2 separate regions of the Homo sapiens genome follow, and region 1 is reported to be linked to region 2. The links are microRNA targets in miRTarBase. Many come from high-throughput screens and were not tested one by one. Region 2 holds a microRNA gene; the other region holds the end of a gene's coding sequence. Distances are from middle to middle.

The links. The annotated mature microRNA hsa-miR-6803-3p reads UCCCUCGCCUUCUCACCCUCAG and lies in region 2 at 5,131-5,152, shown strand. An mRNA with a match to its seed (bases 2 to 7 or 8) in the 3' UTR can be bound and repressed. Matches are read on the target gene's strand: a 7mer-m8 pairs with bases 2 to 8, a 7mer-A1 pairs with bases 2 to 7 and ends in A, and an 8mer does both.
Region 1: the mRNA of HCN2 is a reported target of hsa-miR-6803-3p. Seed matches in the 3' UTR shown: 7mer-m8 at 3,686-3,692.

What each region holds. Positions count from the first base shown.
Region 1 is chr19:613,031-622,690 of GRCh38, forward strand. HCN2 (hyperpolarization activated cyclic nucleotide gated potassium and sodium channel 2) reads left to right here. Exons shown (of 8, transcript NM_001194.4): 6 at 218-458; 7 at 822-986; 8 at 2,765-4,129. The coding sequence ends at 3,444. It overlaps POLRMT (RNA polymerase mitochondrial), which reads right to left. Exons shown (of 21, transcript NM_005035.4): 8 at 9,552-9,660; 9 at 9,119-9,343; 10 at 8,028-8,816; 11 at 7,335-7,457; 12 at 6,928-7,050; 13 at 6,556-6,735; 14 at 6,180-6,266; 15 at 5,967-6,080; 16 at 5,675-5,730; 17 at 5,458-5,556; 18 at 4,747-4,819; 19 at 4,540-4,625; 20 at 4,389-4,450; 21 at 4,191-4,293. The coding sequence ends at 4,244. LOC107987266 (a long non-coding RNA gene) reads right to left here and starts at 443. Exons shown (of 2, transcript XR_001753828.2): 1 at 1-443. RefSeq lists a silencer at 309-490.
Region 2 is chr19:55,240,499-55,250,337 of GRCh38, reverse strand. MIR6803 (microRNA 6803) reads left to right here and starts at 5,088; the gene lies at 5,088-5,152. It overlaps PPP6R1 (protein phosphatase 6 regulatory subunit 1), which reads left to right. Exons shown (of 24, transcript NM_014931.4): 2 at 3,229-3,461; 3 at 4,660-4,846; 4 at 4,936-5,073; 5 at 5,153-5,218; 6 at 7,850-7,962; 7 at 8,059-8,172; 8 at 8,699-8,861; 9 at 8,947-9,099; 10 at 9,259-9,393. The coding sequence starts at 3,235.

The sequences.
Region 1 (9,660 bases), 55 Mb from region 2:
GCAGATGTCGCCAATACGGTGTCAAACGGCGAAGGGGCACTGAGCGTTTTTTCTTTCTCCCGTCCTTGGCGGCAGCAGCTCGGTTCCGGCTACGGGGCTGAGCCCGTCTCTCAGACGAGGAAACTGGGGTCCGAGAGGTGAGCCGGTCCCAGAGGCAGGGCGAGGGGGAAGCGGGAGTGGGGTCCGCAGCGGACCCAGCCCTGCCTCCCCCCTGCAGGAGATCGTCAACTTCAACTGCCGGAAGCTGGTGGCCTCCATGCCGCTGTTCGCCAACGCCGACCCCAACTTCGTCACGGCCATGCTGACCAAGCTCAAGTTCGAGGTCTTCCAGCCGGGTGACTACATCATCCGCGAAGGCACCATCGGGAAGAAGATGTACTTCATCCAGCACGGCGTGGTCAGCGTGCTCACTAAGGGCAACAAGGAGATGAAGCTGTCCGATGGCTCCTACTTCGGGGGTGAGCTTGAGGGGGGCGCGCCTGGAGGGGGAGGGGGCACGCGACCCCCGCGGTGTGCAGAGCCAGGGGGCCGGGGCCGGGGCCGGGGCCGGGGATGGGGATGGGGATGGGGATGGGGCCGGGGATGGGGATGGGGATGGGGATGGGGCCGGGGATGGGGATGGGGATGGGGCCGGGGATGGGGATGGGGCCGGGGATGGGGCCGGGGATGGGGCCGGGGATGGGGCCGGGGCCGGCACCAGGGAGAGCCTGGGTGGGAAGCGCCCACGCTGGCCAAGGTGCAGAGGCCGGGCCGTGTGCCTGGGCGGGGAGGGCCGCGGCGCCCGCCTCGTCCAGCAACCCCCCCCTGCGCGCCACGTGCAGAGATCTGCCTGCTCACCCGGGGCCGCCGCACGGCGAGCGTGCGGGCTGACACCTACTGCCGCCTCTATTCGCTGAGCGTGGACAACTTCAACGAGGTGCTGGAGGAGTACCCCATGATGCGGCGCGCCTTCGAGACGGTGGCCATCGACCGCCTGGACCGCATCGGTGAGCGGGCCGGGGGCGTGGCCGGGGCGGGTGCCCTGGCGGGGGAGGGGCGTGGCCAAGGCATCAGGAGAGTGGCTTGGACAGTGGCAGGGGGAAGGGCGTGGCTGTGGCATCAGGGGCACGGTTGGGGCAGAGACGTGGCCAAGGCATCAGGAGTGTGGCCATGGCAGCAGGGGCGTGGCTGGGGCAGGGGCAGCGGCTGGCCGCTCCTAGGACCCCTTTGGGTCTAGAGGCTGATTTTCTGACCTATTGTCCTACTTCAGCCAGAGGCAGCCTGTTTCCCAAGGGAGGGAATGCACAGGGTGTTTGCGGTTGTGCCGAATGCTCGGTGAGCACCTGCTGTGTGCTGGGGGTGCAGGGGACAGACCCGGGGGCCCACTCAGACTCCCAGGGAGGCTTATGGACTGGTGATGAAATCACACACGACTGGGCTGTGTGCCAGCAGGGCAGGTGGGGCCGGTGGGCTTCCCTGAGTTGGGAATGCAGAGTGGAGACCAGGGTAAGGGATGCCATGTGGAAACGGGGAGGAAGATGTGTTCGTGGAGTGGACACAGCACATCCCAAGGCCCTGAGGTGGAAAAGAGGCCTAGAGTCCAGAGAGCCAGGGAGGCCTGGAGGAGGTTGGGGAAGAAGGGGAGGCCAGACACACAGGGCCCAGTGGGCGGCAGGGAGAGTTTAGACTAAATCAGGAGCATCAGGGAGCCATGGAGGGTTCTAGGTGGGCGGAGGACCTGGTCAGATTGTATCCGCCAAGGCGGGCCGTGTCCAGGAGGGAGACGGTGACCTGGCCTCTCAGGGGGGCAGTCTCTGGGGCAGGGAGGGGCAGAGCCCTGATGACTGGATGTAGGCGCCAGAGAGATGGCGGCTCATGCTGCTGTTCGTGGGAATGGGAATGAAGACCATGGCTGAAACGCAGGACAGGTGCGACGGAGTGGTGTCAGGGAGCTCCCTGGTGTACAGTAGGAAGCTCTCCACAACTTGCTCTATACAGTGAGTATGCAACCCGTTCCTGAGTATCAGGTGCTTAGGTTATAACTTCTGTATACAGCAGGTGCTCAGCACAGGCTGTGTACAGGCAGGTGTTTTCGGTATGCCTGTGGCACACTGGAGGCAGTCATTACATAATCAGCGTATACAGGTGGTACACATGCATACTTGGTGCACAGTGATACCTGCTCCATGTACACAGCAGGCATTAAATACCTGTTTACTGCCAGGCGCGGTGGCTCACGCCTGTAGTCCCAGCACTTTCGGAGGCCAAGGTGGGTGGATCACGAGGTCAGGAGATTGAGACCATCCTGGCTAACATGGTGAAACCCCGTCTCTACTAAAAAAAAAATACAAAAAATTAGCCGGGTGTGGTGGCGGGCGCCTGTAGTCCCAGCTACTCGGGAGGATGAGGCAGGAGAATGGTGTGAACCCGGGAGGTGGACCTTGCAGTGGGCCGAGATCGCGCCACTGCACTCCAGCCCGGGCGACAGAGCAAGACTCCGTCTCAGAAACAAAGCAAAACAAAAGCCCTGCTTTCTGTATGCAGGTGCTTCATGCATGCTGGCTGTGCATAGCAGGTGCTCAGCCTGTATATGGCAGGTACTCAATATCCATACTATAGGCCAGAGATGCTACATATGTGCTTATTGTATACAGTAGGTGGTAAATGCATGCTTGCTCTACACGGCAAGCACTGTGTGCGCACCCGCGGTGCAGAGTAGGTGCTCGGTGCCCGCTGTACGCAGCAGGCGCTCCCTGTGCACACGCTAACGCCCCCTCTCCCGCAGGCAAGAAGAATTCCATCCTCCTGCACAAGGTGCAGCATGACCTCAACTCGGGCGTATTCAACAACCAGGAGAACGCCATCATCCAGGAGATCGTCAAGTACGACCGCGAGATGGTGCAGCAGGCCGAGCTGGGTCAGCGCGTGGGCCTCTTCCCGCCGCCGCCGCCGCCGCCGCAGGTCACCTCGGCCATCGCCACGCTGCAGCAGGCGGCGGCCATGAGCTTCTGCCCGCAGGTGGCGCGGCCGCTCGTGGGGCCGCTGGCGCTCGGCTCGCCGCGCCTCGTGCGCCGCCCGCCCCCGGGGCCCGCACCTGCCGCCGCCTCACCCGGGCCCCCGCCCCCCGCCAGCCCCCCGGGCGCGCCCGCCAGCCCCCGGGCACCGCGGACCTCGCCCTACGGCGGCCTGCCCGCCGCCCCCCTTGCTGGGCCCGCCCTGCCCGCGCGCCGCCTGAGCCGCGCGTCGCGCCCACTGTCCGCCTCGCAGCCCTCGCTGCCTCACGGCGCCCCCGGCCCCGCGGCCTCCACACGCCCGGCCAGCAGCTCCACACCGCGCTTGGGGCCCACGCCCGCTGCCCGGGCCGCCGCGCCCAGCCCGGACCGCAGGGACTCGGCCTCACCCGGCGCCGCCGGCGGCCTGGACCCCCAGGACTCCGCGCGCTCGCGCCTCTCGTCCAACTTGTGACCCTCGCCGACCGCCCCGCGGGCCCAGGCGGGCCGGGGGCGGGGCCGTCATCCAGACCAAAGCCATGCCATTGCGCTGCCCCGGCCGCCAGTCCGCCCAGAAGCCATAGACGAGACGTAGGTAGCCGTAGTTGGACGGACGGGCAGGGCCGGCGGGGCAGCCCCCTCCGCGCCCCCGGCCGTCCCCCCTCATCGCCCCGCGCCCACCCCCATCGCCCCTGCCCCCGGCGGCGGCCTCGCGTGCGAGGGGGCTCCCTTCACCTCGGTGCCTCAGTTCCCCCAGCTGTAAGACAGGGACGGGGCGGCCCAGTGGCTGAGAGGAGCCGGCTGTGGAGCCCCGCCCGCCCCCCACCCTCTAGGTGGCCCCCGTCCGAGGAGGATCGTTTTCTAAGTGCAATACTTGGCCCGCCGGCTTCCCGCTGCCCCCATCGCGCTCACGCAATAACCGGCCCGGCCCCCGTCCGCGCGCGTCCCCCGGTGACCTCGGGGAGCAGCACCCCGCCTCCCTCCAGCACTGGCACCGAGAGGCAGGCCTGGCTGCGCAGGGCGCGGGGGGGAGGCTGGGGTCCCGCCGCCGTGATGAATGTACTGACGAGCCGAGGCAGCAGTGCCCCCACCGTGGCCCCCCACGCCCCATTAACCCCCACACCCCCATTCCGCGCAATAAACGACAGCATTGGCGCCAAGCCTGGCCGCGTGTGATTGCCCGAGACCCGCAGGGCGTGCACCCTTCCTGAAGACAGTGGCTCCTGGGGGTGGCAAAAGAGCTTTATTTACACACTGACAAGGCTCACGGGGTGTCAGCTGAAGAAGTAGGTGGAACGCTTCACCTGCTCCAGGTCGAAGGCCCCTGCGGAGGAAGCAGAGCGGACGGCGTGGGTGGCGGGAAAGCCCCGCCCTGGCCCGCAGTTCGAGCCACCCTTGCGAGGCTGCCCACCCGCCTACCTGGCTTGGGCACCGCCTGCAGTGTCTCCTTCAGCTGGCTGGCCTCCAAGATCTTCTGGGGCCTGGGGTTGGAAGCAGGGTGGGGTGAGGCTGAGGCCAGGTTTTGGGGTGGGGGGGGAATCCAGGTAGTTGGGGTCAGGGAGCGCCTTACTCAGAGCAGAACCGCTTGACCAGGAATCTGGACAGGTCCTGCAGGATGGGCTCGCTGTGCAAGCGGACAAACTGCTCCCGGCACACCTGGGCAGGAGTCAGAGGATCCCCAGGGGTGATCAGGCAGGCTCTGGGCACCACCCCTACCCAACGCCCCAGTGTGGGGGCCCCACCCATGGGTGGACTGAGGCTCAGACTACGGGGGCACCTGGTTCATGACGGAGACATCAGCTGCGTGAGTCCAGTAACAGTCGTGCACAGAGACGAAGGTCAGGCCCTTCCTGTGGCAGAGCGGAGGACTCCTGAAGGGAGGGGAGCTCACAGGGCCACCCAGTGACCAGCATCCTGGCCCTGCGCTCAGCCCCCTCCACTTGAGGTCCAGGGAAGCCCACCCTCCTGCAGGCCTCGCCCCACCCCTCGCCCCGCCCCTCCCCAAACATCCTGGGTTAGGTATCAGTACAGGGGGAGGAAATGTTCCCAGAAGCCTCCTCGCCCCACCCCTGCCGCCCCCCACGCTGCTGTGGGAGCCTCAGCTCCGAGGGCGGCTACGAGGTCCCCTCCTGCCAGGGCCACCACCCCGCATCCTGAGCATTCCCAGCTCCCGTGGCCGGTAGATTCTGCTGGAACGACCTCCACGTGCTCCAGATCTAACCACACATCGCGGTGCCAAGAAATGCCCAGCAGGAAGGGGCAGCGCCCATGCTCGGCTCTCCCTGTCGGGCCACAGGAGGGGAGCTGCCAGGACCACCTACATTCGGGGCACACAGCCTCAGGGCCTCTACACAGGCCCCACAGACACAGCAGATCCACTCTGCCCAGTCCCTGCCCCCAGCTAGACCCAGCCTTGCCAGCTGTGCCCTGCTAGCCAGAAGACGCCCCTGGGAGGCGAGCGGCACCCACGCCGTCCGGAGACGCCCACCTGTAGCAGTGCAGGGCGGTGAGCATCATGTGGGAGGAGTCCAGCGAGTGGATGAAGTTGGGCGGGAAGCCGTTCTTCTGCTTACGTGTGTTGGGCTTTCTGAGGACGGAACAGGTGCCGGTGGGGGCGGCCCAGGGACACCCCTAACTGGCCGCTGTCTCCACCGTGGCTGCTCTCCAGACCCCCGGCCAGGCCCCAGCCCGGGCCCCCCACTCACCGGCTGATGTCTCCGTTGTGGGTGTAGGTGATGCTCTGAATTCCACCTCCTATTTGCTAAAAAGGGGAAGGGGCCGGTGAGTCCCACCCGAGGCCCAGCACGGTGGTGGTACATTGAGGTGGTGGTACACTGGGGTAGTGGCACGCTAGGATGGTGGCACACTGGCGCGGGATGGGGTGGCACACTGGGGCGGTGGTACACTGGGGTGGTGGTACGCTGGGGCACTGGTACACTGGGACGCTGTTACACTGGGATGGTGGCACACTGGGGAGGGATGGGGTGGTACACTGACCTTGACCTTGGAGTCCAGGCGATAGGGCTGGATGACGGGGACGCCCAGGGGTGTGACCCACTCCACCACAGAGCCCATGTGGGAGATGAGGCGGGCACTCTCGGTCAGCCAGTGCTGTGGGACACAGGCCGTCTCAGGGCAGGGGGCTCAGGCCGGGGATCCCGTCCACTTGCTTAGGGAGTCCTGGCCGAGCGGGGACAGGACAGGACGTACCTGGATGGCCCGGGTCCCCGAGAACATCTCCTGTAGACTCTTGAAGACCTGGCGTACGAGATAGTGAGAGGCCTCCCACACGAACTCCTGCAGAGGGCGGGCAGCAGGTGCAGGTCCTCAGGGGCTGGCCCGTTCACGCCCTACTCCCCCCTATTTCAGAGCCACTGAGGCCCAAGGCCTAGGGCCTAGCAGGGGGGCAGGGGAATGGGGCCTGGCGCCCACGCAGTCAGCAAGAAACGCCCAAGCCCTAACAGGCAGCCAGTGGTCTGGGGGAGCAGCCAGGGCTCCTGCTGGGAGGCTGGGTCGGGGGCACACCCGTCTGAGTTTTAAATGGCAGTGAAACCAACGTGTTCGCAGCGCGACATGCCTGGCGCACCTGGGGAAAGTCGCTCAGCTCCCGGAGGCGCTTCTCAATCTGCAGGCGCCCGCCATAGCGCGTGACCCCGTACACCACCGTCATCACCGTCTGCTTCACCACCTTGCGGGTGATGAAACCTTCCAGCACCTGTGCCACCCGCATGCCCCGCTGGGCGTCCTGCCTACGGAACACCTCCACCTGCACGGCGGGTGGGCCGGGGGCGCGGGTCAGCCCCGCTAGCAGCCCAGGGGCCACCAAGCACCCATGAAGCCCCCGCCCCAGCCCCACCACATCCTCAGGACAGGCCAAGGTGAGGGCACCTGGGGCCGAGACTCAGGGCTCACATTGCCCCCACGCCGAGATGCCCCCGGGCAGCAGGGCACACCCTACCTGCGCGGCCACGCCGCTGTACACGTCCTGCGGCACATCCGAGGGCTCCAGGTTGACGGAGGCGGCGCCCACGCTGTCGCGGCCCAGAGCAGCATAATGCTGCAGGCCGTTGCAAGAGCCGTCCTGAGGAAGGGGCGGCAAACGGGAGATGGAAGCTAGAGAGGCAGAGACGTGTGGGACCCCAAACCACCCCCCAGGTCGAGCCGTTCCTAGGGCCGTGCACCCCCCAGCCAAGTGCACCGGAGCCCCCGCACGCTCCCGGGAGAGACCAGGAGCCATGGCTCCCGCACACTCTAGGACCACCTCCAGAGAATACCACGAGCGAAGGTGAAATCTCACACCCTCAAGTCGAGCCCCAGGCCCAGTGCACACTGCACGGCCTCGGGGGCCAGACCCAGCTGGCTCACCTGATGGACGGGGAGGTGGGAGACATAGGCGGCAGGGTCGGAGGCGCGCACAGCGTTCGCCACCTCCATACAGCAGGCCAGCGTCTGCCAGGGTTCCTCCGCGCCCATCCACCACTTTCGGCCCTGCGGGGACAGCGGATGGGGGGCAGTGAGGCCCGGGCCCGATCCCTGAGCCCGCTGGGAGGCTGTGTTGCGGGGAGGTGGGAAATGGGGAGGAGACGCACACCCGTGATAGTGAACACGGGACGCATGTGGGCGAGAGACGGGGCGGTGGCTGGATGAGTTCTCCATAGCCACGGATGGAGGATGGGAGCTGCGGGTGGACCGGGCTGAAACAAGCGTGTCCGGAGCTGCCGGGGGAGGAGGGTGGACAGAGGACCTGGGGGCGCCGGGGGAGGAAGCAGCTCGGCGGATGCAGGGGAGGGGGGAACGTGGGGAACGCGGGGGCCCTGGGGCAGGGGAGAAGGGAGAAGCAGGACGGGCAGGGGGCGCGGGGGAGGAGAGCGGGCGGGGGACGTGGGGGCGCCAGGGGAGGGGGAGGGGAGGAGGAAGACGGGCAGGGGGCGCCAGGGGAGGGGGAGGGGAGGAGGAAGACGGGCAGGGGGCGCGGGGGCGCCGGGGGAGGGCGCGGGGGCGCCGGGGGAGGGCGCGGGGGTGCCGGGAGGGCGGGGAATGCGGGGGCCCCGCCCCTACCGTCAAGGGTTGGTCCGCGGAGTCCAGGATGTCATCCATCACCTCCTCCGCAAAGGCCAGGCGCTTCCGCAGCGGCTCCCGCTTCTTCAACCCCGTGAGATTGACCAGGTGGATCTTGAGCCAATCCAGGCCGTGCGGGCCGAGCGGGCGGCCCTGGGCGAACTCCAGCAGGGCCCGCGCCACGTCGCTGCCCAGGTGGTTGAAGTGCGGCGGGCAGGGGTAGGTGCGGCCGCGGAAGTCCATGTTGTGCGGCAGCCAGAAGACGCGGTCCCGCAGGTGCTGCGCCAGCGAGAGGCGGTACAGCGCCTCCGCCCGCAGGCTGTGCATCTCCCGGGCCACCTTCTGGCAGTGCGCCAGCTCACGGCGCAGCTCGGCCTTGCGGGCGGGCGCGGCGCTGTGCGGCAGGTGGGCCTCGGGCGGCTGGGGCGCCTCGGAGGGCGGGGCCGGCACGCCTAGCTGGGGGCAGCCCTTGGCCTGGAAGAGCTGCAGCACCAGGTCCAGCACGCGCCCGTTGACGCGCCAGGCGCAGTTGCCCAGTTGGGTGAGGGCGTCCAGTGCGCCATGCAGCGCGGTGGGCGGGCAGGTTTCCAGCAGCTCCTGGTGCTGCGTGGCGCCTTCCACCGTGCGCATCAGCTTGGTGGGGCTGAGCAGGAAAGCACCAGAGTGCGGCGATGTCCAGGGCAGCGGGGGGCAAAGCATGGGTACATCCACCGCCTCGAAGGTCAGCGTGGGCTCCGCGGCCTTCTCCAGCAGCTGCACGTAGGCCGGGTGCGGCTTCAGGATGCCGATCTGGGGTGCGACAGGCAGACGGGTCAGGGCCCCGGTGCTGGGGCTTTCCTGTTCCCACCCCTTAAACTTGGGTGAGAGGGGCCGGCTCCCCGGCCAACAAGAAACCAGTGTGGCCTCCCACGAACAGAAGCCACCTCCAGAAACGGCCGGACACCTGCATGGACACCCATGGTGTGTCCCGAGTCCTGGGAGGTACTGACGGCTGCGCTGAGATCAAGGCTCCGCCCAAAGGCGCCAACCCCATGGGGTCCCTGGTCCTCCCAGCGGGATGCCCCCCAGCTCAGGAGGGCACTGCCTGGCACCTGCTGGACGTTGCGGAAGGAATACACGTGGTAGAGCACGGGGACAAGCCGAGAGGAACGATGCGGCTTGTCCAGGCTGCATGGCATCTGCGTAGCCTGCACCAGCATCTCCGCCAGCAGCTTGCCCAGCTCCATCTGCACTGGCAGGGGCCAGGGCTGCTCCCGCAGGGCCTCGGGCGCCCCCAGCTCCTCCCAGTACTGCCGCGGCAGGCAGGGCTCGGGCACCTGTAGGACAGGGCGGTCAGGGCGCTGGGCACCGGGGCCCCTGAGCTAGATGCCCCACCGCCCGTGCCTGACGCCCGGTGGGGCATCTGTCAGCCCAAGCATACAGATGAACAGACTGAAGCTTGGGTGCAAACCCGGCTGCTCCAGGGAGGGAGAGCGCCCACCCACCACTGGCCCCAGCCAGGAGGAGAGGGGGTGCGAGCCTCACCTCGGCGTCGGAGGCCAGCAAGCAGAGGTACTTCCTGTAGTGGTTCTGCAGCGCCTGCACCTGGCCACTGACCCGCTGCCTCTGCACCACGTGCCGGCTGAAAGTGCGC
Region 2 (9,839 bases):
AGCTTCACTGCCCGCCAACCCCTGGATCGGGGCATAGGCATTTACTTTGGTGTGCCTCAGTTTCCTCTCCTGTAAAATAAGGCCATTCCCTGGAGGGTGGTTGTGAGAGTTGGTGGAGGTGATGGCTGTGAAGTCCTTTTCAGAGTAGTCAGCGCAGTGCAGGTGCTGGAGCGCAGTGGCTGATACCATCGACATCATTGCCTGGAATGCCCCCATCCACCCAGACCCGCAGGGCCTCCTGGATATCCATCCAGCACTGTGCCTCAGGCAGCCACGGGCTGTGCAGGAGACACCTGAAGTGGCAGCCCCAGGAGCACTGGCGAGGTGGCATGGGGCACGGCCTCCCCAGGGCACTGGGGTCACCGTGGGCATGGAGGTCAGTCAGTGAGCTGGCTGGGCAGGGGCACGAGAGCCTGGATGCAGGCTTGGTGGAGTGCACATCACCGAGCAGGTGCGGGTACTCATGTTTGTGCTTTAAAAGGATTTTTTTTTTTTTCCGAGACAGAGTGTTGCTCTGCCACCCAGGCTGGAGTGCAGTGGCGCAATCTCGACTCACTGCAACCTCCGCTCCCGGGTTCAGGCAGTTCTCCTGCCTCAGCCTCCCGAGTAGCTGGGACTATAGGCACACACCACCATGCCCGGCTAATTTTTGTATTTTTAGTAGACACGGGGTTTCATCATGTTGGCCAGACTGGTGTCAAACTCCTGACCCCGGGTGATCTGCCTGCCTGGGCCTCCCAAAGTGCTGGGATTATAGGCGTGAGCCACCACACCCAACCTTAGAAGGAATATTGGGAGTCTGGGCATGGTGGCTCATGCCTGTAATCCCAACACTTTGAGAGGCCCAGGTGGGCGGATCACCTGAGGTTAGGAGTTCAAGGCCAGCCTGGCTAACGTGGTGAAATCCCATCTCTACCAAAATAGAAAAATTAGCCGGGTGTGGTGGCAGATGCTTGTAGTACCAGCTACTAGGGAGGTTGAGGCGGAAGAATCGCCTGAACCCGGGAGGTGAAGGTTGAGGTGAACCTAGATTGTGCCACTGCATTCCAGCCTGGGCAACAGAGTGAGACTCCTCAAAAACAAAGGATTATTGGGAAAAGTGGACTGGTGAGGGGTAAGTGGTGAGTCACTGGGTGCTGTGGACTGGGACCTGGCAGGCCCCCCAGAGGAGCAGGGGTTCAAATGCCTGGAGGCTGCTGCTATCTCCCCTAGTCCTCCTGCTGCCGCCATGACTGTCGTTGGTCACGGAACTCTTCCCTCTGCTCCACCCTCAACTGTCATTGGCCAGGTGTAGGGACCCATATAGTGTTATATCAAGATTGTTGCCAATCTAGAGTTACCGAGGCAGACGGGCAGACTGGGAGCAAGGTCTGGACTGCAACCTTCTGTGCTGAGCCCAGCCTTAGGGTGGTCAGGGTGGATGAGCAAGGAGATCCTGGCCCCAGGCTGGCCTGGCTTCAAGCTAGCCAGGAAGGAGAGGAAAGGAGGCCCAAGAGGCGTTCGACCTGCCTGAGGCCATGTGTGGGACTCTGTCCTGCGTTTTGTCAGCCCAGGCTGCTCTCCTAAGCTCCGATGAAGTCTCTTCCCTGGGCCTGGTGCTCCACGTCTCCCTGTCTCTTCCCTGGGGCCTGGGGCTGAGTCAGGCCTGGGGGCTGGTGGGCACTGAGGTGACAGGTCAGCAGGGCTCGAGGAGATGGTGGAGGCCTGTGCAGAGGGAATGACTGAACTGGAAGAAGCTGCAGAAGGGCATTGGAGGAGAGGGACTAGCATCTGTGCCTGGGAGTGATGGTGGTGAGGGCCTGCGGGAGAGGCACCCTTGGCCTCTTGTGCCGGCTCTGCTCTGTTCTCAGCATCCTCTGTAGTGACTTGGGGGTAGCAGTGGCCTCTGCCTTAGCTGGTGATGCGGTTGTCAGGAGGCAGGTAATGAGCGTGAGCTCTGGTCAGTGTCTTAACTGGTGAGAGCTCCGTGAAGGCTGTCTGCTGGGACCAGATGGCCTTCGAGATTCCAGGATGCCGCCTGACTTACCGGGCTTTGGTTGCCCCTTGTCCTGTGTGGCGGAGTGATGACAGCTTTCTTGGGGGCTGCTGGTGAGCTTGGACATCATGTGCACAGCACACATGCAGAGCCAGGACCATTGTCATCAAGTGCCCAGAGCACAGGTCACAGGTCAGGTCTGTAGTGGAAGGTCTGTGTGGAGGCTTTCTAGGGCTCTGCGGAGCAGTGATGTAGTACAGGGCAGGGGCTCAGAATGGAGTTGCCTGGCATCTTGTTAATACTCTGTGTGTGTTTCCTTATTGCCAGTGAGTTCCCATGCACGAGCGTTTAGGGGCTGGAACCAGGCTGAGGAACCAGGCACTGTCCTCCAGAGGGCGGGAGCCAGCTCCAGATGGGGACAGGGTCAGGGCCGGGTGTTGCCAGCTTTGTTCTTCCCCCACAGAATCTGTCTATCCCACCCTGGGTTCCTTCAGGTCCTGGTCAGTGACTATTCTGGGAGCCCCTCCCTTCCAACTTTTCCTCTTCCTTGTTCCAGCCCAGGTGCTGGGTGAGAGGATGGTTGGGGTGTGTTTGTGTGTGAGTGGTGTCCAGGCAACGGCCACAGCCTGGAGATGCACAGACTTCCTCTCTTCCCCCTGCCGCCGCCCCATGCCTCCCACGTAGCCTTGGGGGATTTGCTGGGCCAAGCAGCAGCCGTGTGCTGGAAGTCATCGGGCATCTGAGTTTGTTGAGCAAATACAGGTTGAAGCAAATTTGAAGCCAGAGGTTAAGGCCCTGCCTCTGCAGTGTCTCTCCCAAAAGTAGGGATAGTGGACCCAGACCCTCATGGGGAGACAGGGCCCGAGGCCCCTCAGTGCACAGGGTCCAGCCTCTTCTCGCAGGCCCTGCACATGGTCCACACCTGGGGACTTCACCAGGCCTGAGGCCTCAGGTGTGAAATGACCCCCTGGACCTCAGGCGAGGCGGCCGGGAGGCTGGAGATGGGGGAAGAGGGGCAGGCTCGAGGGCAACTGCAGGAGCCTGGTGCTCACTGGGAGCCTTAAGCCTGAGTGATGGAGGCAGTGAGCCTGCGGGCAGTCCCGGGGCGGGGCCGGGCTCAGCATGAGGCAGAGGGCTGGGACTTGGGGAGAGGCTGTGCCCAAGGTGGGCACTCAGCCCCTGTGGTCAGTGCCTCGTCCAGTGGGGACTCCCTGGGGCGTCTGACGCGGCGCTGGTTGTGTCTATGCCTGCAGGGCGCCATGTTTTGGAAGTTTGACCTGCACACAAGCTCGCACCTGGACACGCTGCTGGAGCGGGAGGACCTGAGCCTGCCCGAGCTGCTGGACGAGGAAGACGTGCTGCAGGAGTGCAAGGTCGTCAACCGCAAGCTGCTGGACTTCCTGCTGCAGCCACCCCACCTGCAAGCAATGGTGGCCTGGGTCACCCAGGAGCCGCCAGATAGCGGTGAGGAGCGGCTGCGCTACAAGTGAGTTCCCCAGCTCCTGGCCAGCCCGTCCCTATCAGCATCACACATACCTTCACTACGCAAGCCTCACAGCTACCCTGAAATGCGTCAGTGTCAGTAAACTCCAGTTTGGGGATGAGGAAGACGAGGCTGGGAGCAGCCAGGCTCCTGCACAAGGCCTCACAGCTCACCGGGTGCAGACCAAGCCTGTGCTCTGGAGGGCAGTGGCACAGTCACGGGTCACGGCAGCCACAAATTCACGGGCCCAGGTGATCCTCCCGCCTCAGTTGCCCGAGTAGCTGGGACCACAGGCATGTGACGACATGCCCGGCTGGTTTTTCTCTTTATTCGCCGCCTTTTATTTTATTTACTTTTTATTAAACTTTTTTTGTATGTTTGTGAAACACTTGTCTGCTATTGAAGACACTTTACTTATTTTTTAATCCAAGCGATGCTGAAAAGACACTTTTTTTTTTTTTTTTGAGACTCACTTTATCACCAGGTTGGAGTGCAGAGGCATGATCGGCTCACTGCAACCTCCTCCTCCCAAGTTCAAGTGATTCTCCTGCCTCACCCTCCTAAGTAGCTGGGACTATAAGCCAGCACGCCCAGCTAATTTTTGTATTTTTGGTAGAGACAGGGTTTCGCCATGTTGCCCAGGCTGGTCTTGAACTTCTGACCTCAAGTGATATGCCTGCCTCAGCCTCCCAAGGGGTACCTCCCCACAGTCCTGGAGCAGACTGTGGCCCCTCAGGGCCTTGAGTGGCACGCTGGTGGGGCAGCTCTTGTCTTGGAGCCGTCAGGCACCGTGTGAAAGTTTGGAGGAGGGAGGCAGGAGGTGAGGTTGGAAGTTGAGCAAGGTTCCAGGAGTCAGCCGGAGCTGGGGCAGCATACGGGGTTGCAAGTGAAGCCGCTGAGAGGCAAAAGGGATGAGTGTTAGCTGCTGGGGGATTGGGAAGCGCAGGAGCTTCAGGACCAGCTTGTCTTGGGGGTGGTAAGGAGCCTAGGATGGGATGGTTGGGTGTTAGCAGGGTGGAGGAGGCCTGGTGTGGGCCCTTGTTTCTGCGTCACCCTGTCCTCTGCCCTTTCCCCTTCCTGGACAGGGGTCTCTGCAGTTCCCAGAAACCCAGTGCCCGGTGCAGAGAAGAGGGTGGAGCCTTGCCGCCCCCTGCCCCCGGCCTCCGACCCGAGCCCCCACCCGCCTGTGCTTGCCTCCCAGGTACCCCAGTGTGGCCTGCGAGATTCTGACCTCAGATGTGCCCCAGATCAATGATGCCCTGGGTGCTGATGAGTCCCTTCTGAACCGGCTCTACGGCTTCCTGCAGAGCACCGGCAGCCTCAACCCACTGCTGGCCAGCTTCTTCAGCAAGGTCATGGGCATCCTCATCAACCGCAAGACAGACCAGGTGCCCTGGCCCCCACCCTGGCGCCACCGTGGGTTGAGGGGTGGTGGCTGGGCCAGGCCCTGTGCATGACGCAGCCCGTGTGCCCCCAGCTCGTGTCCTTTCTTCGGAAGAAGGATGACTTCGTGGACCTGCTGCTGCAGCACATTGGCACCTCGGCCATCATGGACCTCCTGCTGCGCCTGCTCACCTGTGTGGAGCGGCCTCAGCTGAGGCAGGATGTTGTCAATGTGAGCAGGGCCGGCTCCTCTGGGGGTGGGGGGCTGGGCGTGGTGGACAGCGATGCATCCCTCGCCTTCTCACCCTCAGTGGCTCAACGAGGAGAAGATCGTCCAGCGGCTGATTGAGCAGATCCACCCGTCGAAGGATGAGAATGTGAGTGCTGCCGATGCCCCTGCGGATTCCCCTTAGAGTTCCTTCCCCATGCCCACTTCCCCACTTTTAAAAGAGGAATTGGGGCTGGACGCAGTGGCTCACGCCTGTAATTCCAGCACTTTGGGAGGGCGAGGTGGGAGGATTACTTGAGCCCATGAGTTTGAGACCAGCTTGGGCAACATAGTAACACCCCGTCTCTACGTAAAAACTTAGCTGAGTGTGGTGTTGCACACCTGTAGTCCCAGCTACTTGGGAAGCTCAGGTAGGAGGATTGCTTGAGCCGGGAGGTCAAGGCTATAGTGAGTCATGATCACACCACTGCACTCCAGCCTGGGTGACACAGTGAGACCCTGTCTCAAAAAAAAAAAAAGAAAGAAAAGAAATTGGTGAGAAAAGAGAGCATTGAGAACCAGGTGTATCCATGCCCTTTGAGAAAAGGAAAGAAACTTGACTCAAGTGATTCTCCCACTGTGGCCTCCGAAAGTGCTGGAAAGGTTTTTTTCATGACCCAGGAACTTGGCACATAATGCCTTGCAGGGAGGGGCCCTCCTCATCGCCTGTCCAAGCGCTGGCCCCACATCCGTCCCTGCCCACCCTGGCCTGTGCTATTGCTGGGCCTGGCAGCTTTTTCCCTGTCTCCTGCCTGATTGAACCCCTTGCTGTCCTTCTAAGTGTCCGTCCAGCAGCCTTGCTTTCAAGCGCCCTCACATCCTCCCCTTTAGCTCTGGGGGACCCCATGTCCATGTGTTTCTCCAGCTTGGGTCTCCATCTCTGTCCTGGTGCCCAGCACAGGGCCTAGTGTAGAGTGGGTGTTTGTCAAGAGCCTCAGATATCCGAGGCCACTGGGAGCAACATGTCCTTCCCAATGCCAACTTCTGCCTCAGAGGCGCACAGGCTTACAGAGCAGAGATGGCTCTGGGCTCACCCAGGCTGGGGCCTGTCCCTGTGAGGACCCTGAGGCATGGCCCAGGGCCACACTGCCAAGCCCTGGCAGCTGCCCGTTGGGTAGACTCAGCTCTGCTTATGCTTCTCTCTTTTCTCTCTTTTGTAGCAGCTTTACTGAGATGTAAATTGCACAGCATACCACTCACCCACCGAAGCTTACGATTCAGCGCTTTTAGGGTATTCAAAGCGTTTATCATCTTGTTGAATTTAGATTATTTTTTATCACTCCAAAAAACAAGTCCTGCCTGTAATCCCAGCGCTTTGGCAGGTGAGGCTGGAGGATTGCTTGAGCCCAGGAGTTTGAGACTAGCCTGGGCAACATAGCAAGACGTTGTCGCTACAAAAAATTGAAAAATTAGCTGGCATTGGTGGTGCACACCTGTAATCCTAGCTACTCAAGAGTCTGAGACGGGAGGATCTCTTGGGCCCAGGAGTTCAGGGCTGCAGTGAGCTGTGATGGCACCACTGCGCTCAAGCCTGGGGTGATGTAGAGGCCGTGTCTTTTTTTTGAGACAGTGTCTTGCTCTGTTGCCCAGGCTGGAGTGCAGTGGCGTGATCTTGCCTCACTGTAGCCTTGACCCCCCTGGGCTCAAGCAATCCTCCTGCCTCTGCCTCATGAACAGCTGGAACTAGAGATGCACACCACCATTCTTGGCTAATTTTTTTGTATTTGTAGAGATAGAGTTTTGCTATGTTGCCCCGACTGGTCTCAAACTCCTGGGCTCAAGTGATCCTGCCACCTTGGCCTTTCTTTTTTTTTTTTTTTTTTTGAGATGGAGTCTCGCTCTGTCTAGAGTGCAGTGGCACGATCTCGGCTCACTGCAGCCTCCACCTCCCAGGTTCAAGCGATTCTCCTGCCTCAGCCTCCCGAGTAGCTGGGACTACAGGCGCCTACCACTGCGCCTGGCTAATTTTTTTATTTTTAGTAGAGATGGGGTTTCACCATGTTGGCCAGGCTGGTCTCAAACTCCTGACCTCGTGATCCACCTGCCTCGGCCTCCCAAAGTGCTGGGATTACAGGCGTGAGCCACCGCGCCCGGCCCCACCTCGGCCTTTCAGACTGCTGGGATTATAGGCATGTGCCATCACACCCAGCCGAGACCCTTTCTCCAGAAAAAATAAAAAAGATGCCCTGTGTTCATTAGCAGCTCCTCCTGATCTTCCCCTTTCTCTTCTTAGCCCCCGGCAACCACCAGACTATTCTGTCTCTGTGGATTTGTCTTTGGACATTTCATATAATTGGAATCATGTACTACGTGATCTGTGTGTGGTTTCTTTCTCTAGCATGATGTTTTTGTGGCTCATTCATGTGGTTGCATGTATCAGTTTCACTCCTTTTCCTGGCTGATTAGCACTCTCCTGTGTGGATAGACCAGCTTGGGCATATTCACTCATCAGTCAGAGCCTTCTGGGTCATTGTGGGCGGTGCTGCCAGCCCTGTATGCGGTCATGAGGGCCTTGTGTGGATGCCTCCTGTCCTGGGGAGCCTTCCGGGCTTCCTGTTCTCTCCACCATCTTCCCTCCAGCAGTTGGTGCCTCTGTGCCCTCCTCCTTCGTAACACGTGTCCCTGTGTCTGGGTGACCATTTTTCCCTGGATGGTCAGCTCATGGGAGGGGCTCCCAGCACCAGGCTGCAGAGGGCCCGGTGGCCCGACCAGGATCCTCACCTGTCTCTCCCCGTTCCAGCAACATTCCAACGCATCCCAGTCCCTGTGTGACATCATCCGCCTGAGCCGGGAGCAGATGATCCAAGTCCAGGACAGCCCAGAGCCTGACCAACTGCTGGCCACCCTGGAGAAGTGGGTGTGCGGGCAAGGCTAAGGCTGGGGGGAGCTGACTTGGGGAAGCCCTGGGCCCCTGGCCCCTCACCCTGACCCCTGCCCCTGCCCCCGCAGGCAGGAGACGATTGAGCAGCTCTTAAGCAACATGTTCGAGGGGGAGCAGAGCCAGTCTGTCATCGTCAGTGGGATCCAGGTGCTGCTGACCCTGCTGGAGCCCAGGAGGCCGAGGTGAGGGATACGGGCCACAGACCATGCATGCTGCCCATCCCCAGGGGCTCTCCGGCCCCTCAGAGGCGGGTCTCGGTGTCCACCAAGAGAAATCCCCGCCCGTGGCACCTTGCTCTGTGGCTGCCTGTGCTCCCTGCACAGTGGACAGTACGGGGCCGAGGGAGGAATCTTCTTGTCTGCTTTGACAAGTGAGGGCACTGAGGCTGAGGCCACTGCTGCAGCTTGTGTTGGGAGGGACCCCAGGCCCCCGTGCCCCTGCCTTACCACACAGGCCGCTAGCCTGTTGGGTTTGCCTTCCCGCCTCCACCCCTCACCCGTGCTCTCACAGTGGACTGCCAATGCTGCCGCCTGGCGGGCTCCCCACCCCAGCCAGGTGTTGTCTGAAGGGCCTCAGAAGAGAGCGGCGCTGGGGGCATGTGGCTCCTCGTTTTCCTCCAGACCCTGCAGACGTGGTCCTTGTGCCTACTCCTGTGTGGGCGCACAGGCCATCTAGGCTCACTCCGCCTTCGACCCTGCCCTGCTGCAGGTCCGAGTCCGTGACCGTGAACAGCTTCTTCAGCAGTGTGGATGGGCAGCTGGAGCTCCTGGCCCAGGGGGCCCTGGAAAGCACTGTGTCCAGTGTGGGCGCCTTGCACGCCCTACGCCCGCGGCTCAGCTGCTTCCACCAGCTCCTGCTGGAGCCTCCCAAGGTCAGGGGTGTGGGTTCTGGTCCTCGGGGAGGCGGGGGAAGCAGGAAGGGCAGCCCTTGGGAATCAGGCCTCCCTGTGTCTGCAGCTGGAGCCGCTACAGATGACATGGGGCATGCTGGCTCCGCCTCTGGGCAACACGCGGCTGCACGTGGTCAAGCTCCTGGCCAGTGCCCTGAGCGCCAATGATGCAGCCCTGACGCACGAGCTCCTGGCACTGGACGTGCCCAACACCATGCTGGTGCGGGGACTGGACCGGGCTGGGGGTTCAGGGGCTGGGGCGGGGACTGGACTGGGCTGAGGGTTCGGGGGCTGGGGTGGGGGCTCGGCTGGGGGCTCAGGGGTTGGGGGCTCGGCTGGGGCGGGGCCTCTCTGGTACCAATCCTGTGTCCTCCCATAGGACCTCTTCTTCCATTATGTCTTCAACAACTTCTTGCATGCCCAAGTAGAGGGATGCGTGAGCACCATGCTGAGCTTGGGGCCACCTCCTGACAGCAGCCCTGAGACGCCCATCCAAAACCCTGTTGTGAAACATGTGAGCTGGGACTCCCTGGTCCCCCTCCTTCTGGGCCCATCCCCTGTGGGCGCACCCTCTCCAGAGGCCTACCCCTCACTCCTTCCTCCCACAAGTGTTTGTTGGGTAGTGTTAGGTGCCAGCGCCCAGATGGGGTGTGGGAGGCATGGCCAGGGAGAAACGCGGATGAAACATGCAGGTGCAGGGAGCAGTGGGCTCCTGACTTGAGCTGAAGAGCTAGGGGTGGGCGGGAGCAGACCTGCGAGCAGCTGAGTGTGCATGAGTGCGCACACGTGCGTGTGTGAGCATGTGTCAGTGCAAGCGTGTGTGAGAGCATGTATGTGTGTGAGTGCACACGAGTATGTGAACATGTATGTGTGAGCATGTGTGTGTCCGTTAGTGCATGCATGTGTGTGTGTGTGTGTGTGTGTGTGTGTGTGTGTGTGTGTGTATGCACCACATATTCT